4 linked regions of the Homo sapiens genome follow. The protein of the gene in region 4 purifies or fractionates together with the protein of the main gene of each other region. This does not show direct contact. Each region holds a gene or a part of one and is shown on either strand. Other genes may lie near its edges. The genes, in order: H1-10, YBX3, HNRNPM and DOT1L.

Region 1 (7,152 bases), on a different chromosome or scaffold from region 4:
CCTTCTGCTCCTACTAATTTTCCCAGCAATCCTTTGGGTCCCGTTTGCACTCTAGCTTAACCAATAGGCTCAGAGACAGCAAATACCCTTCTGAGACCACACGTTGGATTGTGGTCAGGAACTCCACTCTCTGGCCACCACACTTCGTCCTGGTCACATCTCACTCTAACCCTCGCTGGAGTCAGAATGACTAAGTTTACAGGCCAGTCTGGTGTGACTTTGTAAGAACTACCTCTCTGGAGGCCAAGTTTAGGTCCCTGACCATTAACTCTGAAAACCCATTAATCCCCCCTCCTCTCCCCTCCCCCATCCCGCTCCCCGCAATGGCCGATGGACCCCCTGTGGGGGCAGATAGATCCATCCCTCCTAAGGGACCGATCCTGTCTATCTCCCTGTCCCAGGTACTTTAAGTTCGTCCCAAGCCAGCAATTCCCACCCCTTGCTGAAGGCCCCTGGCTCCAGGCCTACCCTGGCCAACAGATCTGGGGTATAAGGACCCGAGGGGCCCGCCATCCAACCCCGCGTGCCGAAGGCGCCCATCCCTATTCCACTCAGATTAAACGAGAGAGGCTGAAAGGTTTAAACGCTTTATTGTGCCCAAAAAAAGGCCCATGGAATGAAGGGAAGAGCCGCGCAGCCCTGAGCCCGGAGCGATTGTTTGTCGCGCACCCAAAGGCAAGGAGGGTGGGGAGCTGGGAAAGGATGCGCGGCCTCCGCGTCCCCGCGCGCCTGGGCCCGGCCAACCAGCGACCCCGCCCGGTGGGCAGGCGCGGCCTCGGCCATCGGCGCCTAGGGGCCAGTAACCATGACGACGGCCGTTGCCAAGGCCGAGAGCCAATAGAGGCGTCGCCGGGGCTGTTTCAAAAACCTAAAGCAAACAACGAAAAACGCTACATCGTTGGGGGAGGGGAAAGACTGAGAGGACCCGGGGCCCCTCCCTGAGGCTCAGACCAGGCCTCGCGGCCCCGGCCGGCGTGAGCCGTACAAAATCTACGTCACTTGGGGTAGAAAAACAAAAACACCGAAAAGCCCACGCCGGCCGCTCTGACCGGCCGACACGCTCACTTGCGGCCCTTGGGCACTTTGGGGACGCTGGGCTTGGCCGCCTTCTTCACCTTCTTGCCCCCGGCGGCCGCCGTCTTCTTGGCCTTGCCGCCTTTGTCCTTCTTGGCGCCAGCGCCCTTCTTGTGCGAGCGCTGCTCCGGCTTCTGGCCCCTGGCGGGCTTCTTGTCCGCGCGCCGGGAGCCGGCCGCGCCCGGGGCTGCCTTCTTCGCTTTGTGCGCGGTGGGGGCCGGGGCGGTGGCGGCCGCCGGGGCTCCGCGCCGCTCCCCGCCGCCCTCCAGCTTCTTGCGGTTGAGCTTGAAGGAACCGTTGGCGCCGGTGCCCTTCACCTGCAGAAGCGTGTCGTTCTGCACCAGCGCCTTGATCGAGTACTTGAGGTAGGTGCGCCCATTCTGCTGGTCGAACCACGGAACCTTCTTGGCCTCGGTGTAGATCTTGGCCAGCGACGAGCCGTTGCGCTCGCCCAGCCTACGGATGGTCTCCACCACCAGCTGGCTGTACTTGCCCGGCTGGTTCTTCTTCTTGCTATTCTTCCTCTTCTTAGATGGGGACAACGCCGCCGAGCCGCCAGCCTTGGTCACCTTCTTGGCCATTCCCTCGGCGGTCGTCACTGGCAGGGCCTCCTCGAGCTCCACGGACATGGTAGCAAGAGGATTGGTGGCGGGCGGCGCGCGGAAGCCGGGGGGCCGCGCCGGGAAGAGGAAGGCGAGGGGCCGAGGGGGTGCAGGGGGGCTGGGGGCGCGCGGCGGCTCCAGGCGGGAGCGGCCGCGGCCGGGCCTGGGGCCGGGCGGCAGGGCTGGGGTGGGGGCCGGGCCGGGCCGGAGCGAGGGTTGGGGGGCCCGGAGCCGGGGCCGGACTAGGGGACCGAGTTGGGGGTCAGAGACCGAGTCCGAGCCGGCGGCTGGAGCTGGGGACGTAGACCTAGGCCGAGCCGGAGCGAAGAGAAATCCCGCCGAACGCGAGACACCGCCGCCGCAGCTTCCACTGGCGCCTCTGGAACTCGCTGGGCGTGCGCGCTGCGCTCTGGCGGGAGGGCGCTTCTCTCGGCTTTTTATAGCTTCATGGCGGACCACGTTGAGAACAACAACAGCCTGGTCCGGGGCCAGCGCCAACTTGTGCTTCTTGGAGCCCCTTCTCCGGCCGCTGGCTTCTCGGACCGCGCCTCTCCAGCGCCGCCGCGCCCGCAGCGGGGCGCCCCGGACAGGGCCTGAGCTCCCGGCGCAGTGGAGAGGCGACTTGCGTCCTGGAAGGGCTCAGCAAAGGCGAACGGAGAGGTGCACCCTAGGCTGCGGGAGCGCGAGAGGAGGGGGGCACCTCGTTTGGAGGCCAATAGCGCGGGCCCCAGAGGAGGCCCCACGGCCGGGAGCTTGGCGGCCGGCAACCCAGAGAACGCCACGGGCACCCGAGCCTTGTCCCGGCCCGGGGGGCTCCAGGCCTGCCCGCAAGAGGAGCTTTAATTTGTCCAAACTAACACAGGGCGCGCCCTCACGTGGTCGGCTGGGGCAACGTGAACTGCGCTAGGACATCCTCGGGGGTTTTCCGCCCCATCCAAAGGGGATGGCGGATGGGAGGCACTCTCCAGCTGCACCCCGGGTTCTGGTTGTGCCTCTGGGAGCCTAGGCACAACCCGGGGAATGGAGGACTACGGCAGGACCTCTCTAGGGACACTGCCTCGCCGCTCCCCCCACCCTGTTGCCGCTGATGTTCCCAGGGCCTCATTTTGTAATCCACAAGTAGCTGCCGCCGGTCCCCCCAAAGCCAAATGGGGGCTCCAGGGTGGGACAGGGTGGGCGGGGGTGAGGCTGTGACACCCAGAGGAATTCCTGTGAGAGGATGGGGAAGGGATTCGCTCTTAGTTCCTGGGTGCACCCCTCCCCCTCTCCCGTGCACAGGGAAATGATGGCGGGAACACAGCAAAGGAGACCATGTCCTGGAGAGGGTCCCGGGCCCCACCCTCCCCGGGGGGGCTTGTGCAAGGCTGGCGGCCCGATCTCTGCTGATTCCAGTATTGGGGGTGCAGAGAAGGCACAGGACAGTTTTTGTTGAAGCCGTTGCAGCCTCCACTTGGGGAAGCTGAGGCCAGGGTAAGATGCTCGGGTAGGAGAGGGGATCCCTTTGGGGGTAGGTGATGTAGGGCACAGGAGTGGGGCTGGGGCTGGGGGGTGGCAGGGTTGCAGGCAGGAGACAGTCTCCAGAGGCCCAGCATAGAAAAGCGATGGAGGGGTGAGGGGGGACAGGACGCTGGCGAATTGGGGTTCCCAGAGTGAGAGACAGGAACATTTACAGGTGGACAGAGTAAAAGGCCCTGAAAAGGGGGTGGGTTGGTGCATTTGTGGCCTTGGGCCCAAGCAGGCTTCTCTGGGTGAGGGCTAGCAGCACCTCCCCTCTTCTCCAGCTCACCCCTTTCACACACACACACGCCCCCCATTTTGTCACCCTGTCAAGGGAATAAACCCCAGAGAGGAAGAAATTATGTCTAGGAGGAAACGGTGAGCCTGGATGGGTTTTTTAGGGGGGAGGCTGGCAGGGGCATGGAGCCAGGAAACAGCCTTCGCCCCCCAGAGCACCAGGTACCCTGAGAAAAGTGAGAAGAGAGATTGCAGCCCAGGTCCCTGCAGAGGAGGATGGGCTCCTTTCCCAGGAAGGACTGGCTGAGTGGACTGTCTCCAGGGCACAGGACAACGTTGAGGGCCTGAGGCCTCCACCTTCTTGAAGAAGGACCATGTGAATTTCCTGACAGAGAACGGGGATGGGTTTCTGAAAGCACCACCCAGCTGAGCCTGCCGAAACTGCACAGCTGTTTCCAGGCCAGGCTGGCTGCATGGAGGACGTGAGAGGAACAGCCAGCTGTGTGTGCTGGGCCCACTGATCAGGGTGCTCAGGACCAGGAGCCTTCTGAGGATGTGCAGAGGGGACTCTGGGGAGAGGAACATGGTGGCCACAGCTGGAGTGACCGCAGTGTACAGAGATGGGATGGGAGCAGGAAACCCAAAAGAGCCGGCCCTGGAACCAGGTGGAGGGGAGGCAGCCCGGCCATGACCCAGAGCAGGTGATATGATTTGGATCTGTGTTCCCACCCAAATTTTAGGTTCAGTTTTAATCCTCAGTGTTGGAGGTGGGTCCTGGTGGGAGGTGATCAGATCATGGGAGTGGATTCTAATGGTTTAGCACCATTCCCTCGGTGATGTCCTCATGATGGTGAGCTATCATGAGATCTGGTTGTTTGAAAGCGTGTTGCACCTCCCCTGACTCCCTCTCTTGGTCCCGCCCCTGCCATGTAGGACACCTGCTCCACTTCACCTTTTGCCATGAGTAAAAGCTCCCTGAGGCCTCCCAAGAAGTTGATGCCCTGTGCTTCCTGTACAGCTGCGGAACCGTGAGCCAATTAAACCTCTTATCTTTGTAAATTACCCAGTCTCAGGTAGTTCTTTATAGCTTTGTGAGAATGGACTAATACAAGGGGCTTGAGCTTGGGTCTTTTGAAAAGTTAAAGGGTGAGCAGAAGCGATACCCCTGAAGGAGTCCCAGCCATGGGCAACAGGGCCATCGCTTGGCCTTTTGTGCAGCCACCGCAGGGGGGAGGAGTGGCATGCTGGACATGCCACTCTGGAGCTGGCTGCAGCCACAGGCTGGGCCAGGGACACTCCTGGGTCATCTGTGCTGGAGGAAGGGGATGCTCTAGTGGAGACAAAGGGACAGGGTCACGGAGGAAGGCGGGACCCAGGTGTGGCCTCCTTCATGACATCTGAGGAGAGGAGATTCGAGAGAGGAGGGCTGGGCACCGCAGCCAGTACAGCCACTCACAAAGTAGAGCCGCAGTCCGGGCACTGAGGAGAGCGGCCAGGCTCGCAGCCACGGTGCCCCGGGGGACCTGGCTGGGACTGCAGGGGAGAAGCAGTCAACACAGGGCTGGAGCCCTGTGGGCAGGGCAGTGCTGTCCAGTCCCGGGGGGAGGACACGGAGGATGCAGCTCAGACCCCACACCAGCCTTGGTGGGCACACGGGCTGGGGGCCGGCTCCTCAGCCTGTGAGGGGAGCGGGGCTTTTGTCAAGAGGGAGGCTGCCTGTGGCGCAGGGCTCAGAAGACTAATTCTAGACTTTGGGAGCTGGCATAGACTAAGTGGGATCTTCCACTTGCCCTCATGATATGGTAGAGGCAACTGAGGCTTGAGGAGGGGGTTAGCCAGGAGACCAGGACTCAGGCTGGGGTCTTGCAGCCTTCAGGGTGCCTCTTACCCCCACACTGCTGGTCATCCCTTCTGCATTACCCCACCAAGGAAACTGTAGGTGGGGAAGGTCCCAGGTCCTCAACCAAAAAAAATGGCCAAATATGAGAAAAGGAGCTTCTGGAAGTGGCCAGGGCCTAGCAGAGACCAGGGCAAGACCATGTGCCCAGCACCTGAGTCGCGCCCTTCCCTGGGCCTGGCCAGTCTGGAGGAGGCTCTGGCTTGTGAGCAGTGGGGTTTCTGGGGTCGGAATCTGGAAGGGGCTCTGTGGCTGCTGGGCTCTCTCTCTCCTCCTTATCTAGGGGATTGTTCAGTCCTGGGGCTGCAAACACCACCAGTACCCTGATGATGCAGTTCATTTCCCTAGCCCGAGGTCAGCCTCTCTCCCGTGCAGACCCCAGCATCCCGCTCCTCTTGCCACCCTCACCTGGAGCCTGGGTGTGGCCAACACAGACCCTGCTCCTCCCAAACTTTTGCCAGTGATTCTGCCCAGAGACAGGGACTGCTCCCTGATTTCCCTACTCTCTTCCAACCCATGGCTTCCTCCCCATCTACCCCAGAACTGGTCCCACAGCTGCCGAGCCCCCACCCTCTCTACCCTTTCCACCCAGCCTCCTGTTCTGTCCGCACAGCCCCAACACAGAAGTCTGAGTGGTGGGTCCTGGCTCTGCCAGAAGGTCTCTAATGGCTTCTCACCAGACGTAGGGTAAAGTCTCCCAATGCCTTTGCCACTGGCCCCTACCAAGGCTCTGACCGCAGCTCCCCAGCTGAGCACTCAGCCTCATAGCCTTTTTTGCTGCCCACACATACCCAGAGGGTTCTCAGGACCTGGGACTTGCTGGGGTGGCCCCATGGCTGGCTCCTTCCCTGGCCGGCCTCCCTAGACCCCTCCCTAGGGCTCCTACCAGAGCACCCTCCCTGCCTGGCTCACAGCCCCTGCCATCTAGTATGTCCGTTGAGTTGTGGGCTGTGAGCTAAGTGCAGGGTGGGGGAGGTCATGCTCCTAGCTGTACCAAGGCGGGGTGGACACAGTGCGCTCCCGACACAGACACACCTGCAGCAGCAGCGGATGGGAGGATGGGGGTCAGGAGCTCCTGGCTGGGCTCTGACCCGGGCTGTCCTTCAAACGCTGGGTGTGATCCCTTCCCCACCACCACTGCCCAGCCTCAGTCTCCCAGTTTGTATAAAGGGGCTGGATGTATGGAGTCTGAATGATCCAGCTCGACAGTCTGATTCTGGGCTTCCAGACACACACTCACCATTCACACCTACAGTTCACACACACAGACACCTACTCACTCACACTCAGATTTACCTTCACACACGCTCACCATTCACAGCCACAGTTCACACCCACAGACACCTACTCACACATATTTACCCTCACACATGCTCACCATTCACACCCACACTTCACACTCACACTGATACCTACTCAGTCATGCTCACACACACTCACACCATTTACACTTACAGTTGACACACGTACACATCACCTACTCACACACAATTTACCCTCCTACTCACATGCTCACACACCATTCACATAGTTCACATTCATACACACACCTACGCATCCATTCACACATATATGCACACACACTCATACCCACACATTTATCCTCACACATACCATTCACACCCACAGGTTCACACACATTCACCTACTCACACCTGTCATCCTCTCATTCACATGCTCACAAAATGGTCACACAGTTTACCCCTCACACCCACACACTAACCCATTCACACTCACAGATTCGTACACATACACCTACTCAGACACATCATCCACCCATTCACGTGCTCACACACACATGTTCACACAGGCATGTGCCCTTCACACTCATAAGCTCACCATCAC
Region 2 (7,219 bases), on a different chromosome or scaffold from region 4:
AGAGTGGCCTCAAACGTAAGATGGCCTGGGTTTGATCTCTCCTTTGGAGAGATGAGAGATCTTTGGAATTAAAGCTGGAGAATGCCTCATCAGTGTAGACTGCATAACTTTGGAGATATAAAGACATGTTTTTTTTGTTTTGGATTTTCTTTCCCCCAACAAAGAGAGCTAAAGTATTTTCCCAAGTGTATCAGTCTAGCAAACTTCAGAACTACCCCTGCCTACAACAGAGCAAGTCTTAATTACTATTTTAGTTTTGAATTTAAAAGTGAAGCCTTATTGTTTATCCTTGGAAATTATAAACTTTGTATCTTATGAAAAGACAGTATGGATTGATGTTAATAATTACTTTCATTCTCTACTGAGGCTTTTTTCTTTATTTTTTCTTTAAGGTAATCTATTATCAGGTTTCCTGTTTCATTGAGTCTTTATAATTGCTTTTTGCACTTCCTGAATTGAGACAGGGGCATTTCCTAGAAGTACTGAATTTGTCATTCATAATTGATTCCAAAGATCATATTTGAAATAGTTGAGATAAATATAAACCTACAAAATACAAGTTACATGAAGTTTTATTTTGTTTAGATTCCTTCTCTCAATTCTGCTAAAATCAGGCATTGTAGAGAAGTGGTCCTGCTCATGAGGTAGAGACAACCATTATGGTAAAGAGGGGGATTTTATGGAAAAATGCTTAAGTTTGATTCGCAAAACTGTAGAGAGCAAGGTAAACAAAGAAACAAGCCCAAATTCATCATGTGATTTGAAAAGACCTGTTATATCACGTCTCAGAGTGGTAAGTACAGAACTGGATTGAGACAGCAGCAGTTCTATAATTATTCTTGACTCCTCTGATGAGCTCCCACTTGGCGACTGGACAAGTTGCTTTACGTCTTTGTAGATTGCCTGTTAACAAGGAGCCACCTTGTTTCTCATTAAAGTTTGCCTAATATTTCCAAGTATGAAAGTGATGTGTTAAGGTCTTTCACTCTTTTATTGTAGCTCCTATTTTGAACTTATAAAATTTGTCTAGGTTAAAACTTGGAACATTCATCTTGAACATTCTTTTTTTCCTTCAGTGTTTCTCAATTTTAATGATTACAGAATTGTATAGACTTATAACCACTCCTTATCTTGCGAGTTTCCTGAAAAGTTGAATAAGGAAGAAAGGTTTAGTCTTCTGAAAAGTATTTCCTTATGAGATCTTGGCTTGCTCCATTTTCTTTTTCTAAAGTATTTTGGAATTAAGCTTTTAATGGTTTCTTTAGGTATGTTTAGGCTTTGTCTAATGTTATCAAGATCTTAGTGATATGAGCTATATCTCTCTGTAGGTCAGATACTAATTTATCTGCTTAATCCTATTTTAGCCACCAAAGTCCTTGGCACTGTCAAATGGTTCAACGTCAGAAATGGATATGGATTTATAAATCGGTATGTGTGTGTGTATATTTGCATGTTTTAAGTTTATACTTACATTGTGGCACCAGGAGTTATAAATCCCTTAGCCTTCATTAATGGCTTATATAAATTTTTTAGGTTTCTAAGCACTGTAAATATTCTCATTTCTAAGCTACTGGTTGTTAAATATTACTTAAAATACATTTCCAGGACACTAATAAATAACTTATTTCATAAAATCTAGTCATTAAGGAAGAAAAGGAGGGGGAGATAAAATCAGAAATGGGAAGGGCCTTAGGATAAATGAGACCATATCCATAATTTCACAGATGGAGAAACGGAGTCTTACACTGGTTAAGCAGCTTTCCTAAGGTCACCCAACTAGTGAGTCATTGAGCTGGATCTTTAACTCACTTCTGGTCCAGTCCTATGTAGAAACTGTAAACTGTGGTAACTTTTAACCGTACAGGAATGAGAACATAACTACAAGATGCTGGGAGTATTATGAGGTTTTCACATGATATCGGCATTTTCTTTGCTTTCCCACCCCTTCTTAAAGTCCTCCAATTTCTTGTCTCCTTTGGTGGGGTGGGGGTGGGGGGCTGTTTTAAGTTTCAGTGTAAGGAGAGCCTAGTTCACAGCTGTGCCCTGTCCTTTTAACTGTCTTGCTTTGCTTTTGCTGGGAGGAAAATCTGAGGCTCTGATTACACACCATGTGATTCAGAAAGAGACAGAGGAACGGGATGTTTCTGTATGTTGAGTCTGTGAGCTTGGATCTAAGCACTGTGGCAATGTGGAGGAGGAAGGTGGGTGGCCTGTGGAGTTAGAAATGTTTAACAAGGATTTTAGGTGTCTGAATTGAGTGTAGAAAATAAGTGAAAATATATGTTGTGTTTTGAGGACTTGGGAGTTAAATTCATAACACATAGGTTCTTTTAAGTTTTTCCACATACGTACTACCTTTAATTGTGAGCTTTTTGTCTTTCAACAGAAATGACACCAAAGAAGATGTATTTGTACATCAGGTAAGAGGGATTATAAATACTACATTTGCTATGTGAGGAGAGGGTGTGTAATCTTCTGTCAGCCCTTTCCCAAAAGTAAGTCCTATGGATTATTATTTTAATCTAAACTCTTTCTGTGATTTATTTTGCAACAGGAGTTCAGTTCCACATTTTAAGATTGGCAAATAAGTTCTTCTACCCCATCATATTAACTGTTTTCAAATAGTTTTATTTTTGCAGTTGTATAAAGTGATATTTGGTTAGACCACTTTCTAATTTTTAAAGCCTTTGAGTCCTTAGCAAAAAAAAGAAAAGTCTGTTTCCCTTTTAGCATCCTGTTCTCCTGATGTGGTTCCTCCTTAGTGTTTGCCTGGAGCCAATCTGGCTTCTGCCTGGGTAGGTATTGGTTAAAGCTCCTCTGTCAGAGCAGCTCTCAATTGAAGTAAATAGCGCAGAGAAGCAGATAGTAAGATGAGAAAACTTCCAGTTCCCAGGGTAGCCCTCACTCTTGTTAAATGAGGCATGTTAGGACGTGTCCAGGTCAAAAGCTGCAAATTCCCTTAGATTTGCAGGAAATAGAGGAAATGGGTAAGATATGGAGCTTCTCTGCTATAGGTGCCTCAGTTTTTCTTTGCTTTATTAGCCTAGGATGTTATTTATTCTGTTATTAATATGTCCTAGACTTCCTTTATAAAATAGGTTAAGAGAAGGAATACTATCCTTAGTGTTCTTTTTGTTTATTTAGTTTTCAGTGAATTGTCTGAAATATGCGTTCTCAGAGTATAACAATAAGGAAGATAGAGCAGCAGGTACTAATGCCAGCCCATTCTCTTGCAGTGCAGAAATCCAGAATACATCTGATTTTCTGTGTTTTTGTTTCCTTCTGTTTAGGTTTGTGTGTGTATTGGAGTGACCGTAGGAGTTGGAGATAGTGGTATCTAGCTGTGGTTTCTATTGTTTATATTTCTACTTGACTGGATATATCTCAGTTGCATTTAGATAATTTGAGTAGATTTATTTTGTTCAGATACAGTGACTTTTAGGGTCATAATAGTGTTGTTTATAATACTTGGAGGTTTGAGGTTAATAGACCTTTTAGGGTAAGAATTCTGAAGACTGCTAGAGTCAAGGTCCTCAGAAGTTGCTGTATTGGTGGCTGGCTTTATTAGCCTGTGAGTATATGACCCGATTCCAGCCCCCGTGAGGTTGTGTGGTGAGTCACCTCAATGTGTTGAGGCTTGCCCAGTTTAACAGGAAAAAGGGAGCGAGCCGGCAGGGAGGGGCTGTTTTTGGAATGGCTGAATGTTCATGCTGCGTGCCTGTCCTGAACTGCCTTTTTTCCTCTATGGGTGAGGTCTCTGCTCTGTTGGCTCACTATTTCTTTTCCCTCCTACTCAGAGTTAGGGGACGGGCTGGATTACACATGCTTAATCGCTTTATAAAATAAGGTTGACCTAGTTCCATAGAAACGCAAGCCCCTTTAACTGTTTAGAGATACCAGCCAAAGAAATGGAAATGCATGGCAGGAATTATTTTCTGCCTTCATTGATGGAACAAGAGAGAGCAGCACCTATTCATAAGCAGATATTTAGGTGTAGATGTTTAATGAAGAATAGCATCTTCACTAACCTTTTAATGTATTATCAGGGAATGTAGGATTTGTTGACATGAATTGTGTGATGGGAGAAAAGTTGAATAAATATCATATAGGTAGAGTACAGGGATATGAATTCCCCCTCCTCCACTTCCCCCATCATCCCTGGGGCTGTTACGGTTGTGACTTCAGATAAATCACTTTAACTGTTAGCCTCGTGTTAACTCATCTGCAAAATGGGAGGAGAGGGGGGAGGCCAGATTATTACTAATACGTTCTGATTCTTGAGATAATTTTGTTTACTCGTCAGAAATATTTATCCCCTTGGCATTTTAATTTGTTTTTCTTTATCACTGCCTCCTTTCCTCCTCCGGAGATTCAGAGAATCTCTGAAGCTTAATGGTTTGAGGTAATTAATACATCTGATATGATCAGGTGATCAGCCTGTAACAGTAGTGTGTAGTCACTGCACACACTGCAGTTATAGAAAAAACATGTTCTGTTTAATCCACCTGTCAAGATGAATAGCACAAATCAAGGAAGTAATGTGGAATATAGTTTTATAGTGCTTTCTTGTTGTTGTGTTGGAGATCCAACTTAGTGGGAGAATGGTGGAAAAATAAGAATCGGTCAACAGTTTCTTCAAGTTCACTCTGGTGTACTTGAAAGCAGTGAAATCTGTGGCCAATATTGAAATATACATCGAATAAAATTTTCTGTTCTCTTTCCAGACTGCCATCAAGAAGAATAACCCACGGAAATATCTGCGCAGTGTAGGAGATGGAGAAACTGTAGAGTTTGATGTGGTTGAAGGAGAGAAGGTGAGAGGAAATTGTGGTTGGGTATCAAAGTGCTGGCACATAGTACTGTTGCACAATAAATTATCTATCAGCCCCTTATGAATTGACATGACTTTGGAATTTTTGTACAATAGCAGGAAGTGACTTTTAAACAGAATTTTTTTTTTTTTTAAGATGGGGTCTCCCTCTTGCCCAGGCTGGAGTGCAGTGGCGCGATCTTGGTTCACTGCAACTTCCACCATCCAGGTTCAAGTGATTCCTCTGCCTCAGTCTCCCTAATAGCTGGGATTACAGGCATCCACCACCACGCCCGGCTAATTTTTGTATTTTTAGTAGAGACGGGGTTTCACCATGTTGGCCAGGCTGGTCTTGAAACTCCTGACCTTAGGTGATCCACCTGTGTCAGCCTCCCAAAGTACTGGGATTACAGGTGTGAGCCACCACACCCAGCTAGCAGAAATATTTTTGACATTGTCATTATAAACATTCTGCAATAAAGATACTTTAATTTCTTATTTAATAAATGATCAACTCTGATTATGGAAAGAAAAGCTGATTTCTCAATTTAAAAATAATTTATATTTTTATACCAAAGGTATGTATTTCGAAATGCAGATTAAAATTTAACTATCTTATGTATTAACAATATATTAAAAGTGCTTTGCAGCTGGGCGTGGTGGCCCACACCTGTAATCCCAGTACTTTGGGAGGCTGAGGCAGGCGGATCTCCTGAGGTCAGGAGTTCAAGACCAGCCTGGCCAACATGGTGAAACCCGTCTCTACTAAAATTACAAAAATATCTGAGTGTGGTCGCACTCCTGTAATTCCGGCTACTCAGGAGGCTGAGGCAGGAGAATCGTTTGAACCTGGGAGGTGGAGTTTGCAGTGAACTGAGACATTGCACTCCAGCCTGGGGGACAGAGCAAGATTCCGTTTTTTAAAAAAAAAAAAAGAAAAGAAAAACTGCTTTGGGGCAAAAGATTTCTTTTATCAAAGTAAAGTTTTCAGGCTGACTTGTAAGCACTTCTACCTACAAATAATACATGGTAAAGAATATTTTAATCCCAATAAAAGGAGATCGAAATTGAATATTAATCATTTTGTTTTCTGTTTGGCTTGGATTTTGGGAAGCTGAAGGTACCCTGATAGACCCTAAGATAGCTTCGTCCGGGTGAACTGAATCCAAGAAGTTAAGGGATTTTCCTGAAGACTAGCTACAGAAGTTTTTAATACTGTTATATATTTAATTCCGTGTCTGTAATGCCCTTTATGCTTTGTGTTTAGTCTGTTATAGATACTAGTAAAACAATATTGAGTAAGATTAAAAACACGCTAAAACTACATATAGCACAACTGCCATGGCAGCTAATCATGGCAGCTGAATTATAAATTAACTGGATGAGAGGTTAACTCCCTGTATGTGCTCCTCCCATATACACATATACCATTCCATAGGTCATGTTCCTAATGGCTCTCAAACCATTGTGTTTTAAAAGAAAAACAATTTATTTCATTGGATGCAGAAATTTAAGTGATTATCTTTACCGGTGTGATCCCCAGGGTATCTTGTAAGTCTTTTAGATTTTCAAATCACTCACCAGCACCTGCCACTCTGTGAGGATCTCTGATATCCCATCCAATTTTTAAAAAATTGTTTTGGGTTGATTTTTCTTCTGTATGTTTTCAGAACTCAGGGTTTTACAAAGTGATGTAGGGTGTGAAATACACTCTCTGAAATCTTCTTGGTCTACATTTTTTTAACATTTTTGAAACATTTTCCATTTGTCCATATGAGAATAAGAATTCTAAATCTGTTTCAAGGATAATAGGAAAGGCTAAAGAAGGACTACATGTGTGGAGAATATTATTCATCAAAGACCCTTTCTTCTTGTTGCTGCCAAAATAGGAGAAGTTTCACTCAGTACCTTTGTGCTGGACAGAGAATCATATGAGCCCATGAATAGGGATTGTCCTCTTGGTACCTCCTAGACTAACATAGGTTTCAACACATTCTAGGAAAATAACAGTATCTCAAGTCTTTCCCATTGAGGAATATTCTTCCTGGTCTAGCATTGCTTCTACTTTGACAGTTGTATATTTGCTAATTTATGTTCTTTAAAGAGGTTACACATTGCTTTTGCGATTGACATTACTAGACAAGAAAGCAAAACTCAGGTTGTATGAGCAAACAAGCCATATATGTTTAAATCAGGATGTGAAGTACCTTGCTCACTTTGTTTAAAACCTAGATCTGTTTTTAAAATCACAGTGGGAATTCTTAGTATGTTCTGCCAGTCTTATACTCTAGCAGTCCAAGGCTGTTTTTTGAGTTAGTGTATATTCTTTTTAATTTTGAGGCCATCTTTTTATTTTCTTCTCAGGGTGCAGAAGCTGCCAATGTGACTGGCCCGGATGGAGTTCCTGTG
Region 3 (7,219 bases), 6.2 Mb from region 4:
TTCTGCCTCTACAGATGTGGAGCCTAGTGCTGTGTGCAGGACCAGCTATAGAATTTGTGGGGCCCAACACAAAACGAAAACAAGGGGCCTCTTGTTAAAAAAAAAAACTAAGAATGTCATGGCAGCGATAACAGCATTAAACCAAGCTCAGGGCCCCTGAGTGCGGGGCTCTGTACAATTGCACGAGTTGCTCACCTGTGAAGCTGGCCCTGCGGCCGTGTGTGCCTGTGAGCTTATACCTTCGCATACGTGCGTCCTTGTATTTATAGCATGTGAGCTCAGCCCGATGGCATCGCAATTTGTATGCATTTCACCTGCTTGCCACCAATGAGAGCGTATGTGTAAAACCTCCTCCCTTCCCCAGAAAAGTAAATCACGCAGACTTCTTTCCTATAGATTTGGATTGCCTCTAGTCATGAATGAGTCTTCCAGACAGGGAAATTGATACGGAAATCTGTGGAATAGCTTGTTTGTGGTGGGAGGAAAATCAAGGACATATTGTTAACGTGTTTTCACCTACTTTTACTGCACACCTGTAATGCCTAGTTCGGTGGTTTAGAGAATATGGAGTGTTTCTGGGCTTTCTTATAAGGCAGAGGCTCCATACAAGGTTGCTGATGATTGTTCTAAATTCCCATTGTTTTCTTGGCTTTTCTCCCTTGGTTTATGTGTCGTCTGGAAACTGATTTGTAGTTGGTGAGGTAACATACGTGGAGCTCTTAATGGACGCTGAAGGAAAGTCAAGGGTAAGTGTCTGAGAGAATTTCTTCTGTGGATTTACTACATGAAAAATGTAACTGTATGGTGGCGTGGAATCGAATGAAATCAGGAAGGCAGTGAGTGCTCATGTTACAGTAGCTATGTTTGATTTTGCCAAACATTTGAGTGGGGTGGGAGGGGATTTGCAAATGGGAGTCCCGCTTTTCCAAATGGCTGGCCAAAGAGCTTTTTGGTATTCTGTTTGGATGCCCAATTTGGATAACTGGGGACCAATAGCAGCATTGTCTCTTTGTTAACAGAGGAATTGGCTGTGTGTGAATTATGCATGGAATTTTAGCGGTGGTATAATTAATGTAAAACGTGTGTTCTTGTCTAGAAAATGTTACTCTTGGTTGTTTGCTGAATTTGAAAGTTGTGTGAACCAAAGATTCCGAAAAGTTGCCTTTGTGCCAGTAAATTGTAAACCAAATATTAAAAACCTGAATGTTCAAAATTGGCCTAGTTTAAAGAGAACATAAACTATTTTCTGTCGTGCAATAGAATGGCTTAGAATAATCAAAAGGATGAGCTTAACTTACGGAAGGGATGGATTTAGGAGGAATATGGTAAGGACTCGATTGAGTACAGAGGGAAGCAGATCTAAAGTTGGTGTGATTTCTTGGAGACCCTGAATTTAGGTCTGCTTATTAAATGTCAGCAGCTCTAGTGCAATGCTGGTAACGCGTAGGAGAAGGAGATATTAAGGAGCCCAGCTTTTAACAAGGAAGGCGAGGCGAGGCACTTCTGTCAGCTTCCCCTTAGAAGGGTTCATTTTAAAAGACTAACTTTGTGACATAAATCATATTTTTAGTTTGTTTATAACTGTCATTGATATTTACTATTTTTTTCTTTTCTTTTTCCCCTTCCTTGCTCTTCTGACTGGTCTCTGGCTTCCTCCAAAGGGATGTGCGTAAGTATCGTCTAGTTACTTATTGGTATTTGAGCCTTCTAACTTGTAGGACTGGTTTCACTCGACTCGTTTCCTTTTGACTCTATAGTGTTGTTGAATTCAAGATGGAAGAGAGCATGAAAAAAGCTGCGGAAGTCCTAAACAAGCATAGTCTGAGCGGAAGACCACTGAAAGTCAAAGAAGTAAGCTCTTGCTTAACACTGCGGATACTGTGTGTAATTGTTGAGTGATCCTACTTTGGAATTAGGGAAAGACGGTCATGGTCCCAGACGGCATTTACAAAGCAAGTGCCAGCCTGTTGTTTCTAATGAAGAGTGTCGGTCATAGCCTACAGCAGCCATTCCCTGCAAGGACTTTGGGGTGGTGGCCAAGCAGATCCTGAGTGGCTGCTGACCACCTTCTAATATCTGTGATTTGTCTGAGGCCTTGTTGTCTCAGGGACTCTCAAACCATGAGCCCGTGGGTTTGTGCCATTAAGTTTTACTCCATCTGACCCTTCTTCTTGGCCCATCTTTTTTCTTTTTTTAAAAAGTGAGTTTGTTCCAGCCTGGGCAACATGGTGAAACCCCCTCTCTACAAAAGGTACAAAAATTAGCCAGGCATGGTGGCGCATGCCTGTAGTCCTAGCTACTTGGGAGGCTGAGGCAGGAGGATCATTTGAGCCCAGGATGTGGAGGTTGCAGTGAGCTGAGATTGCACCATTGCACTCCAGCCCGGGCAACAGTGAGACCCTGTCTAAAAAATAAAAAAATAAAGTGAGTTTGTTATTCCTCAAACCTGCTTTCACATCTCATCTGAATCAAATATATTCCTTGAGGAAGAAGGTTTTTTTGTTGATTAAATCCCTCTTGGCTGGGCGCAGTGGCTCACGCCTGTAATCCCCAGCACTTTGGGAGGCTGAGGTGGGTGGATCAAGGTCATGAGTTCAAGACCAGCTTGACCAACATGGTGAAACCCTGTCTACTAAAAATACAAAAAATTAGCTGGGCGTAGTGGGGGGTGCCTGTAATCCATCTACTCGGGAGGCTGAGGCAGGAGAATCGCTGGAACCCAGGAGGCGGAGGTTGCAGTGAGCCGAGATCGCGCCATTGAACTCCAGCCTGGGCAGTAAGAGCAAAGCTCTGTCTCAAAAAAACATCCCTCTTAACTTCTTTTCACCTCTTCTCTTGGGGAGGAAGATGAGTAGATTCAGAGTGAAGCTTGGTAGGGTCTAAGGTCTCTCATGTGTTATGATGTCTTTTTTAGTGCTGATGGTGGTAATTGACAGGACAGAGAGTTGAAGAAGAGAGTCAGTACAGAGCTTCACAGACCTTCCCAGATGTTGTTTTACTGCGCAGCCCTCACACACACGCCTCCAACACCTGAAGGACTTGAAGGATGGGGGCGCTTGTGTGGTCTAGAACTGTTTCTCAAACTTCTGGAAGCCATTGACGGGGTTTGCAGAAGTTACAAAACCCCATTGATGAATTAGTAAGATTCAGCTATACCAAGCCCATGAAGCTCTAATTTCAGTCTGGCGGTTCTACATTATATCAGCTAATCATGTTTCCCTCCCTACCCTGCTTTTCTTTTTTACTTAGTGCAATTGAGAGCTGTGTTTTTAGTGCTACACTTCATGCCTTTTCTTCCTTTCCTATTTCTTTAGCTGGACTCTTCTAAGCTGGTAGTTGAGTTCATTTGACTTTCTTGTTAATAGATTTGAGAGATGCTTTCCAAACAACCTTTCAGTTTCTAAGTCTTGAGAATATCATTTACTGTGCAAGCATGGTTTGCGTTGTACTGGGTCAGTTAAACGTAACACCTTTTGTGCTTGTTTTAGGATCCTGATGGTGAACATGCCAGGAGAGCAATGCAAAAGGTGATGGCTACGACTGGTGGGATGGGTATGGGACCAGGTGGCCCAGGAATGATTACTATCCCACCCAGTATCCTAAATAATCCCAACATCCCAAATGAGATTATCCATGCATTACAGGCTGGAAGACTTGGAAGCACAGTATTTGTAGCAAATGTAAGTAAACAGAACCATCGTCTAAAGTAGAAAATCAGAACTTTATGAAATGACCTTGTCAATATGTTATAAAAGTAATTCTCACATTTGAGAAGAAAAATGTAAAGAAGGGTTTTGTTCTTGATTTCTTTAAAAATCAGCCTTATAGGCGGGCTTTGTCTGCATTCCTAAGTCACAGGCTTGACCGTGGTCTCGTTGGGGCTGTGATTCCTGAGTTTCGCAGGTGTTTCCGCAAGCAGTAACCGAGTCTGCATTCTCCGTTGGTTTATTTTATGCAGTTTTGGTGCAGAGTAAGACTGTACGAGCAGAAGTGCACTGACACCTTCCTCTTGTTGTGTCTGGGGTGAATGATAATACCTCCACCATCTGCAAGGGGAAATATTTTTAGAATAAAGTAGGTTGGGTGGGGTGGGGAGTGGTAAAGCTTATCAGGGAAACAATTTTTTAAAAATGTTCAGAAAATGAGTATTAATTTGAAGTATGAGGTGACTTAAGTTTCTGAGAAAAGAGACAATATATTTACTATAGGTACAGTTTATTTACAGTGAAGGCCAGGCTTTATAATCCTATTTTAAAATTTCCATTGCAGTTGATTAGTTTTTGTGACATTATTTCCTAATACTTTTTTCCAACCAAAGCATGTATCATTCATGTAGTAAAAATGTTGTGTTTCTTAAGATGTTTACATTGAGGTTTTTACCCCGTTCTCTCTCGATTAGCTGGATTATAAAGTTGGCTGGAAGAAACTGAAGGAAGTATTTAGTATGGCTGGTGTGGTGGTCCGAGCAGACATTCTTGAAGATAAAGATGGAAAAAGTCGTGGAATAGGCACTGTTACTTTTGAACAGTCCATTGAAGCTGTGCAAGCTATATGTATCCTTCTGCAGGAATTCAACTTATGAACAGTTTGACCTAAATTGCTGTGTTAGTAATGTAGGTTTGTGTGAGGAAGAGGTGACTGTGTGTATTCATGTTTTTTATGTGACTAGGGGGAGTGCATTACTGTGGAATTAAGAGGTTCTCTGGGCCGGACCGGTCACGGTGGCTCACGCCTGTAATCCCAGCACTTCGGGAGGCCAAGGCGGGCGGATCACTTGAGGTCAGTTCGAGACCAGCCTGGCCAACATGGTGAAACCCCGGCTCTACTAAAAAATGCAAAAATTAGCTGGGCGCAGTGGTGGGTGCCTGTAATCCCAGCTACTCGGGAGGCTGAGGCACAAGAATCGCTTGAACCCGGGAGGTGGAGGTTGCAGTGAGCCGAGATTGCGCCACTGCACACCACCAGCCTGGGTGATAGAGTGAGACTCAGTCTCAAAAAAAAAAAAAAAAAAAAAAAAGGTTCTCTGGGGGTGGAATTGATTCAATACAGTGTGGATAGAGGGGATGGTTACAACATGGGCATATGCCCATGAGTCTTTCTACTGTTTTCTTTTCAGAAGAGTCTAGGTTTGAAGGAGGAAGTCCAAAGAATGTGCTACTAGAGAGAAAGTGGGGTTGTTGTTTCATGTGTAATACATCCTTATAGGACCTCACTCTTTCCAGTGAGTAGACATCATTTTGGAAGAGGCCACTTCTCCTTGACCCTAGGCTTAGCCTAGAGTTTTTAATCCCTTGGAGAGTACCCCACAGGAGCACATTCATACAACTCAGACAAGACCGTCACTGCATGTCTTACCCAGAAAACATGGTCCTTCAGTTTAGATAGTGGTAGATGCCTGGCCCATTGGTCACATTCAGAGAACCTTGATGCCACTGCTTAAGAGGATGGTTTGGTGAAATTGTAAGGTTACGAATGAAGCTTCACACCTAAGGAATAAGCGGAAGTTGTCTTGTCCTCCCCGCCAGCTTTATTTATTGTTCCTTTTATGTTTATTGTTGAAAGTATAATGAAGAATTGAAATTGCTCATAAATTCATCACTTAGAGGGACTGGTAGCAGTTGGAGTATTTTTCTTTCTTTTTGTATTTCTCTTGTGCACATTTTTAGAATTGCAAGAAATAGCCTTAATTGTAATACCAGCTATGTTCAATGGCCAGCTGCTATTTGATAGACCAATGCACGTCAAGATGGTAAGTCAGTAGGATCTTTCTCTGTGATATACTCAAGTCTAGCAAAAACATGGAATTAATAAGAGTGTACATATAGCCACTATGAAATATTTGTGGATTAGTCTAAGTTAAATAGGGTGCAGTATGTTGAGCAAAATTGTGAGAGAAATAACATTTTGCTGGTCAGGCGTGGTGGTTCACGCCTGTAATCCCAGCACTTTGGGAGTCTGAGGCAGGCGGATCATGAGGTCAGCAGTTCGACACCAGCCTGACCAACGTGGTGGAACTCCTCCGTCTCTACTAAAAATACAAAAATTAGCCGGGCGTGGTGGCACGCGCCTGTAGTCCAGCTACTCGGGAGGCTGAGGCAGGAGAATCACTTGAACGTGGGAGGCAGAGGCTGCAGTGAGCCGAGATCGTGCCACTGCACTCCAGCCTGGGCAACAGAGTGAGACTCTGTCTCAAGAAAAAAAAAGAAGAAAAAAAAACATTTTGCTCATGGCAGCTCTTGACTGCATTAGATATTTTTCCTTTTGCACAGTTGACTGTTCATGGCGCATTCAGGAAGTCACCTGGGTATCCTGGTTGAGCAAGTGATCCGTTTCAAAGAATGGTTATATATGTGGGGTTCCAGTTTTTCAAAGTATTACAGTATAATGTTTGGTTAGCATCAAATCTGTTGTGAACATAATTAAGTCATTGATTCAGACAGCTTTTAAAGGTCTGTTGGAGCACTTCAATCTTAATAAACATTTGCTCTGCCGTAACTGTGCCAAAGATAATAATTACTACAGGCATGACTGGAACATGCTGAGGGCAGTCTAGTTGGGACTCAAATTCAGGAAAAAGATAAACTATAAAGCAATTTTTTCATTACTCTAAATAGAGTAGGTAAGTTTTTTGAATAGATGATAGATTCACGTGACTCAAAAGTCAAAAGGCATGAAAAGGTAGTGTGAAGATAGTGTGAGTCCTACTTGGACTTCTTGCCCAGGTCCCCATCATCCCCCACAATAATATCCATGTGTCTTTTCCCTTGACATAAAATAGGAAGCATGCTCCGCATGCCTTTCTACCCTTGCGTATTACTCCATGGCGTGGATAATGTGTTTAGCTGGTCCTCTCTTGATGGGGGGCCATTTCAGTCTTTTGCTGTTGCAAACACTGCTGCACTGGATACTGAGATTTGTTTGTTTTCTTTCTCTTTCAGGATGAGAGGGCCTTACCAAAAGGAGATTTCTTCCCTCCTGAGCGTCCACAACAACTTCCCCGTAAGTGTTTCAGTGATTAGGGCTGAGAGTTTGAATTGGAGTTACACTAATAAACAGAAAATTACCATATGGTTTCACTTGAACCTGTGCCAGGTTAGCCCTCAGTTCTCTTGGCCAGTTCTTTTCTATAGATTTTTCAGGGTGAGAAATGAGCAGAGATTCACAACTTGAGGATATTGTTAGGATTACCTCATGGTAATCCTAGGATTGTAATACCAGG
Region 4 (7,219 bases):
ATTTTTGTCATCATCTTTTCTGTGTAATAAAAAAACAATGTGTTTGTTAAAAGAAAGGAAAGCAGGTAAACAGAACAGATAAACTAAAAGGAAAAAGCCCCTCTCAGACTCAGCGCCCGGGGAAGCTGCCACGCTCGAGTGGCGTGTCCCTCCACAGGTTTTACACTTAGTGAAACTGGATGTTTTACACTTAGAGTCTATTTTGAGAGACGAGAGCTCTTTGTATCTTCCTGTTGCTCTTTTTGAAGAAGGTGCTTCCATGTCAGCAAAAACCATCCTCGGCCCTCCACATGACTTTATTTGACGCCCCCAGCTTCCCGACCCCGCCTCTATGTGGTCGGCAGCTTTGGTTTTTCCATCCCACACAAGCAGCGGGGGTCCTGGCCACCCCTCCGGGTGTCCATCTGTGGCAGTCTTGGTTCCCTGGAGTGGTCCCCCGGTGGGGCGGGCCTGACACCATCTCTCCTCCTGCAGATCAGCATTGTGGAGCTAGAGAAGAGCCAGCGGCAGCAGGAGCTCCTGCAGCTCAAGTCCTGTGTGCCGCCTGACGACGCCCTGTCCCTGCACCTGCGTGGGAAGGGCGCCCTGGGCCGCGAGCTGGAGCCTGACGCCAGCCGGCTGCACCTGGAGCTGGACTGCACCAAGTTCTCGCTGCCTCACTTGAGCAGCATGAGCCCGGAGCTCTCCATGAACGGCCAGGCTGCTGGCTATGAGCTCTGCGGTGTGCTGAGCCGGCCTTCGTCGAAGCAGAACACGCCCCAGTACCTGGCCTCACCCCTGGACCAGGAGGTGGTGCCCTGTACCCCTAGCCACGTCGGCCGGCCGCGCCTGGAGAAGCTGTCTGGCCTAGCCGCACCCGACTACACTAGGCTGTCCCCGGCCAAGATTGTGCTGAGGCGGCACCTGAGCCAGGACCACACGGTGCCCGGCAGGCCGGCTGCCAGTGAGCTGCATTCGAGGTGAGTGCCCTGGTGGGGCTGGGGGTCTGCAGCTGGTACCTGCCGACTCTGCCTGGTGTGCTCAGGCTGTCGGGTTCTCAGCAGGAGTGTGTTTGTTGAGGAGACTGAGGTGGGGAGGTGCTGGGCCAGGCCGCTGCCTCTGAGTGCCAGCCCACGGCCCTCGAGAGTGACTGCAGCTTCTCATTCCAGAGCTGAGCACACCAAGGAGAACGGCCTTCCCTACCAGAGCCCCAGCGTGCCTGGCAGCATGAAGCTGAGCCCTCAGGACCCGCGGCCCCTGTCCCCTGGGGCCTTGCAGCTTGCTGGAGAGAAGAGCAGTGAGAAGGTGCGGGCCGCGACCCCTGCCCCGGGCTCAGGGAGGTGCTCAGCAGAGGCGGCCTGAGCGAGTTGCTAGCAGGAGGGCTTGTCCTAGTTGACCTTGGGGCACGGTGAGGTACTGGGGCTGACCTGGAGTAGGATGTTGTGGCAGAGTTGGGGGCAACCAGTAAGGACAGGTCACAGGTGACGTTGGGCAGGTGCCATGGAGGACATGGGGTTTGTCAGGGTGTCCCTGATGCCTCTTAGTTCTCAGTGACGGACGGCAAGTGCTGGTAGAGACACAGAGCCCAGTTTGGGAGGCCGCTGCCCATGAGGACTTCCCCGGGGGCACTGGCCTGTGTGCACAGGGATGGAGAGGGAAGGACGGTGACGTTGCATGGACTTGGCAGTGATGGATGTGGGCCCTGGGAGGCTTGGTGGCCCCACGGGTGACTGCCCACCGAGCCGGGCGGGCAGGCTGGAGGGGACAGATGGGCATTGCTTTCAGACACCAGGAGCGTGCCGTCCCTCTGGAGTGTCCCAAAGCCGGTGTCCAGGAGGGCCTGACTGCGTGGGGAAGGTTGCAGGGCCTTGGCAGCGTGGGGGCCGCCTTGAGAGAGCTGTAGCAGGCCCCCGTCCTGTGGCTGTGGTCCCTGTGTCCTGGAGGGGTTTGTTGACCCACGACTGGGGGTCGGGCCTTCGTCTGCAGGGCCTGAGAGAGCGCGCCTACGGCAGCAGCGGGGAGCTCATCACCAGCCTGCCCATCAGCATCCCGCTCAGCACCGTGCAGCCCAACAAGCTCCCGGTCAGCATTCCCCTGGCCAGCGTGGTGCTGCCCAGCCGCGCCGAGAGGGCGGTGAGTGGCTCCCAGGTGGCTGTCCCCAAGGGCCACGTTGAGGCAAAACAGTCTGGGGTGCTCGAGACCTGGCTCACTTTGCGAAGTCTCACGCTGTAAAATGTCGAGCGTGAGGCAATGCAGTCAAGGTGGGCTGTCCAAAGCCGGGGCGTGTCCGGTGACCTGGGCCGTTGTTTTCGCCAGTCTTTTTCTTTTGGGTGAAAGGTACGTGTGCAAGTGGAGAGGGCCTCACACCTTCTGGGTTGAGGAGGAGCTCAGAGGCCCACCCTGGCTCCCAGCCTCACTCCTCACGAGGCCACATTGGCTGCCGTGGCCCCTGTCCTCACAGCTGCCTCTGGGTTCTCCCACCCAGCGCTGTGCATGCAGAGAATCTCGTCTTGTGTAGCATGGGCGGGATTTTCTGGGCATTGAACTATTTTTTAAAAATTGTGCGCTTCAAGTATATGCTTCAGTGGTTTTTAGCATTTATTTTTTATTTTTTATTTTTATTTTTCAGACGGAGTCTCACTCTGTCGCCCAGGCTGGAGTGCAGTGGTGCGATCTCGGCTCACTGCAAGCTCCACCTCCCGGGTTCACGCCATTCTCCTGCCTCAGCCTCCCGAGTAGCTGGGACTACAGGCGCCCGCCACCACGCCTGGCTAATTTTTTGTATTTTTAGTAGAGATGGGGTTTCACCGTGTTAGCCAGGATGGTCTTGATCTCCTGACCTAGTGATCCGCCCGCCTGGGCCTCCCAAAGTGCTGGGATTACAGGCGTGAGCCACGACGTCTGGCCTCTTTCTTTTTTTTTATTTTTCGAGATGGAGACTCATTCTGTCCCCCAGGCTGGAGTGCAATTGTGTGATCTCGGCTCACTGCAATCTCTGCCTCCCAGGTTCATGCCATTCTCCTGCCTCAGCCTCCCGAGTAGCTGGGATTACAGGTGCCCACCACCACGCCCGGTTAATCCCCGCCCCCACCAGCTGAGACGGAGTCTTGCTCTGTTGCCCAGGCTGGAGGGCAGTGGCACGATCTTGTGATCTTTACTCACTGCAGCCTCCGCCTGCTGGGTTCAAGCAGTTCTCCTGCCTCAGCCTCCCGAGTAGCTGGGATTACAGGCATGCACCACTATGCCCAGCTGATTTTTGTATTTTTAGTAGAGACAGGGTTTCACCATCTTGGCCGAGCTGGTCTCAAACTCCTGACCTCAGGTGATCTGCCCACCTCAGCCTCCGAAATTGATGGGATGACAGGCATGAGCCACCGCACCCGGCCAATTTTTGTATTTTTAATAGAGGTGGAGGTTTTGCCCTGTTGGCCAGGGTGGTCTCGAACTCCTGGCCTCAGTCGACCCACCCGCCTCGGCCTCCCACAGTGCTGGGATTCCAAGTGTCAGCCCCCGTGCCCGGCCGGTTTTTTGTACTTTTATACACCTCTGTCTAATTCAGGACATTTTCTTCACCCGGGAAAAAGCGTTGCCCGCCTCAGCAGTCACTCCCTAGTCGTCCCCCAGCCCCCGGGCCCCCGAACACGCTCATGTCTGGGCCTGTCCCTTCTCTTGGCACGTGAGGGCATTCCCTGTGTGGATGGAGTGTGCCATCTTCATCCGTGCCCAGTTGATGGACCCCGGCTTGATTCCCTGTTTTGGCGATTGTGAATCGTTCTGCTGTGAGCGCTGGGGTCCAGGTTTCTGTGTGGATGTAGGTTTGCTCTTTGGCCCATGTGGGAGTGGAGCTACTGGGTTCTGCGGTCACTCTACTGACCTTTGTTGGACTTGGAGTGTGGTGTGGGGAAGTGCAGTGGGTGGTGGCCGGCAGGTGTGTTCTCGCAAGCGCCCTCCTCACCCCACCCGACTGCTGGCATTTGTGCTGCTTGGAGAACACAGCCGCTTCCCGGTGAGGGCGGGCTGTGGGTTGCTTGGGTTGTGCCCAGTACCCCCTCCCCACAGCTGGACCCCGGGACCCCCGCCTCCTGACCTCCCTGCCTCAGGCCCGCTGCCCATTCACACGCAGGCACCGCGCACTCTCGCTGCGCCACTCGCCTGGGGCCCCGCTCAAGTTCCCCCGCTGCCCTCTTCCCACGCGGTACTGGACGGTGACCCCGGCGGCCTCCCCCAGCCAGCTGCAGGCCTCAACACTCACTGTTTCCAGCTGGGTTCTGGGTCTCCTGGGGCACCTGCTGCCCCTGACACACAGGGTTTTCTCTCTGCAGAGGAGCACCCCCAGTCCCGTGCTGCAGCCCCGTGACCCCTCGTCCACACTTGAAAAGCAGATTGGTGCTAATGCCCACGGTGCTGGGAGCAGAAGCCTTGCCCTGGCCCCCGCAGGTAACGCCCCTCCTGTGCCCTACCCTCAGGACTCTGCTGCTGCTGCTGCTCTTCAGGCAGGAGGGCTGGGTTGCTGGGAGTGGAACAGGGCTTCCTGGGGTGATCATGGGGGCTGCTGCCCCAAACCGCCACGCCTCATTACTGACACCCTTTCCTGCATCCCACGAGCTGGGATGCGGATCGGGCTCAGCTGCAGCCATCTCGGCCTCATACCTGGGTCTCCCGACACTGACACCTCCTGCTTGGGTGTATTAATTCAGCCCGTGAGGTCGGCCCCAGTGCTCTCGGGGGCTCCTGTACTCACAGCTGGGAGGCCCCTGACTCAGGATCGGCTCCACACACAGCAGTGCCCAATGGCACACGACCGTGGGCCTCCGTGCTGGTAGCGGCATGGTTTCTGGTTCCTTGAGAAGGTGCCGCCTGAGCAGTCTCTGCTGTTAGCCCAGTTTCTGCAGAGAGCCAGAGAGGATGCCACTTTGGCTTTTGTTGACACTGCAGGCCTGTCTGTTGTGGAAGCCGCAGAGACAGCATGTCAGCGGGCATGGCTGTGTGCCAGCAAAACTGTACTTAAAACAGCAGAGGACATGAGACCCCCAGGCTGGTTTGCTGGCCCCAGGTTGAGATGCGGTATGATGCGGCAGCTACTTTTTTAGGAGTAAAAAGTAAAATGTGGCCGGGCGTGGTGGCTCATGCCTGTAATCCCAGCACCTTGGGATGCCGAGGTGGGCGGATCACCTGAGGACAGGAGTTTGAGACCAGCCTGGCCAACATGGTGAAACCACCGTCTGTACTAAAAATACAAAAATTAGCCGGATGTGGTGGCAGACGCCTGTAATCCCAGCCACTCGAGAGGCTGAGGCAGGAGAATCGTTTGATCCTGGGAGGTGGAGGTTGCAGTGAGCTGAGATCGCACCACTGCACTCCCGCCTGGGCAAAAAGAGTAAAACTCCATCTCAAAAACAAAACAACAACAAAACAAGTAAAATGTACATGGCCGCTATTGAGACAGGAGGGGCTCTAGGGAGGCTGGGCAGGCTTCACGGTTGGCCACGTGAGGGCCCTGGAGAGGCCACCGAAGCCCGGGCAGTTCTGCCCTCGCAGGGCTGGGTTGTGCCCTTGGGGTGAGGTCTGCTCTGCGAGAGGCAGTGACAGTTTCAGGAGATTTTCAACTGGGTGGCAAACAGCCAACTCCAGAAGCGCCTTGCTGCGCCCCTGCACTGAGGCCTCATTGGCAGAAGCAGGGAGGCCGCCCTTTGTCCCCGGGTGGTCATGGAAGTGCACCACTCATCGTGGGCTGGGAAGCATGGCTGCGGCCTTCAAGGCGGCCATAGCTTGGAGTATCCAAGCTGAGTTGTCTTCTGAGAACAGGAGGGAGGGAGGCCACGCAGCCATGGGCTTTCCTCATGGTGTCTCTGAGATCACGGGGCCAGAGGGCAACTTACTCAGAGGAAGCCTAGCTCAGCGGGGAGCCCGCACCAGGAGGCTTCTTGGGAGGCAGCGTCTCAGCCGGGACCTGCAGGGCACAGGCAGCCCAGATGGGCGGGAGGAGGCACAGGGTCAGCCCTGAGCCTTGAGCTTGCCCACAGAGCCTTCTGGTTCCACCCCAGAGGGGCCGTTTTCAGACTCCCAACCCCTTCCCCACTTCCCCGCCTCTCCTGGAGCCCACAGAGCTCCTAGGGGGTGGTGCTCCCACAGCAAGGCTTTCTCTTTGGCCATCCTGTGTCCCCTGAGACCCCCATGTCCTTCCCGGCAGGCTTCTCCTACGCTGGCTCGGTGGCCATCAGCGGGGCCTTGGCGGGCAGCCCGGCCTCTCTCACACCTGGAGCCGAGCCGGCCACCTTGGATGAGTCCTCCAGCTCTGGGAGCCTTTTTGCCACCGTGGGGTCCCGCAGCTCCACGCCACAGCACCCCCTGCTGCTGGCACAGCCCCGGAACTCGCTTCCTGCCTCTCCCGCCCACCAGCTCTCCTCCAGTCCCCGGCTTGGTGGGGCCGCCCAGGGCCCGTTGCCCGAGGCCAGCAAGGGAGACCTGCCCTCCGATTCCGGCTTCTCAGATCCTGAGAGTGAAGCCAAGAGGAGGATTGTGTTCACCATCACCACTGGTGCGGGCAGTGCCAAGCAGTCGCCCTCCAGCAAGCACAGCCCCCTGACCGCCAGCGCCCGTGGGGACTGTGTGCCGAGCCACGGGCAGGACAGTCGCAGGCGCGGCCGGCGGAAGCGAGCATCTGCGGGGACGCCCAGCTTGAGCGCAGGCGTGTCCCCCAAGCGCCGAGCCCTGCCGTCCGTCGCTGGCCTTTTCACACAGCCTTCGGGGTCTCCCCTCAACCTCAACTCCATGGTAAGGATGGGGACCGGCAGGGCTGGGGAGCGCGGCCTGTGAAAGAAAGACCAGAGGGAGACCGGGCGCGGTGGCTCACGCCTGTAATCCCAGCATTTTGGGAGGCCGAGGCGGGTGGATCACAAGATCAGGACATCAAGACCATCCTGGCTAACACGGTGAAACCCCGTCTCTACCAAAAATACAAAAGATTAGCCGGGCGTGGTGGCGGGTGCCTGGGAGGCTGAGGCAGGAGAATGATGTGAACCCGGGAGGCGGGGCTTGCAGTGAACTGAGATCGGCCACTGCCTGGGCCACAGAGCGAGACTCCCTCTCGGGGGGACAAAAAAAAACACAAAAAAAAACAGGTGGAGGCAGGGGGCCATGACTGAGCCCGGCCATCCTCCACCACGTGCGGCCTGGCAGCCTGGGAAGAGGCGGCCGACAGCTGTCTCTGGGGTTCGGAGTGCGATGCGCTGCCTGCAAG

The links.
Region 1: the proteins of DOT1L (region 4) and H1-10 purify together in Homo sapiens (affinity purification with mass spectrometry, with the first as the bait; 2 studies listed by BioGRID). This does not show direct contact.
Region 2: the proteins of DOT1L (region 4) and YBX3 purify together in Homo sapiens (affinity purification with mass spectrometry, with the first as the bait; 2 studies listed by BioGRID). This does not show direct contact.
Region 3: the proteins of DOT1L (region 4) and HNRNPM purify together in Homo sapiens (affinity purification with mass spectrometry; 2 studies listed by BioGRID, with this or other methods). This does not show direct contact.

Annotation. Positions count from the first base shown.
Region 1 is NC_000003.12:129,314,200-129,321,351, forward strand, and holds H1-10 (histone H1.10), read right to left. Parts: upstream 2,088-7,152; 5' UTR 1,704-2,087; coding exon 1,062-1,703; 3' UTR 572-1,061; downstream 1-571.
Region 2 is NC_000012.12:10,713,289-10,720,507, reverse strand, and holds part of YBX3 (Y-box-binding protein 3), read left to right. Parts: intron 1-1,364; coding exon 1,365-1,428; intron 1,429-2,386; coding exon 2,387-2,420; intron 2,421-4,724; coding exon 4,725-4,814; intron 4,815-7,174; coding exon 7,175-7,219. UniProt on the Homo sapiens protein: Binds to the GM-CSF promoter. Seems to act as a repressor. Also binds to full-length mRNA and to short RNA sequences containing the consensus site 5'-UCCAUCA-3'. May have a role in translation repression.
Region 3 is NC_000019.10:8,461,836-8,469,054, forward strand, and holds part of HNRNPM (heterogeneous nuclear ribonucleoprotein M), read left to right. Parts: intron 1-693; coding exon 694-746; intron 747-1,661; coding exon 1,662-1,669; intron 1,670-1,757; coding exon 1,758-1,851; intron 1,852-3,488; coding exon 3,489-3,680; intron 3,681-4,399; coding exon 4,400-4,553; exon of another isoform or gene 4,554-4,779; intron 4,780-5,666; exon of another isoform or gene 5,667-5,699; coding exon 5,700-5,749; intron 5,750-6,938; coding exon 6,939-6,999; intron 7,000-7,219. UniProt on the Homo sapiens protein: Pre-mRNA binding protein in vivo, binds avidly to poly(G) and poly(U) RNA homopolymers in vitro. Involved in splicing.
Region 4 is NC_000019.10:2,215,807-2,223,025, forward strand, and holds part of DOT1L (histone-lysine N-methyltransferase, H3 lysine-79 specific), read left to right. Parts: intron 1-474; coding exon 475-959; intron 960-1,148; coding exon 1,149-1,284; intron 1,285-1,965; coding exon 1,966-2,112; intron 2,113-4,301; coding exon 4,302-4,416; intron 4,417-6,169; coding exon 6,170-6,753; intron 6,754-7,219. UniProt on the Homo sapiens protein: Histone methyltransferase. Methylates 'Lys-79' of histone H3. Nucleosomes are preferred as substrate compared to free histones. Binds to DNA.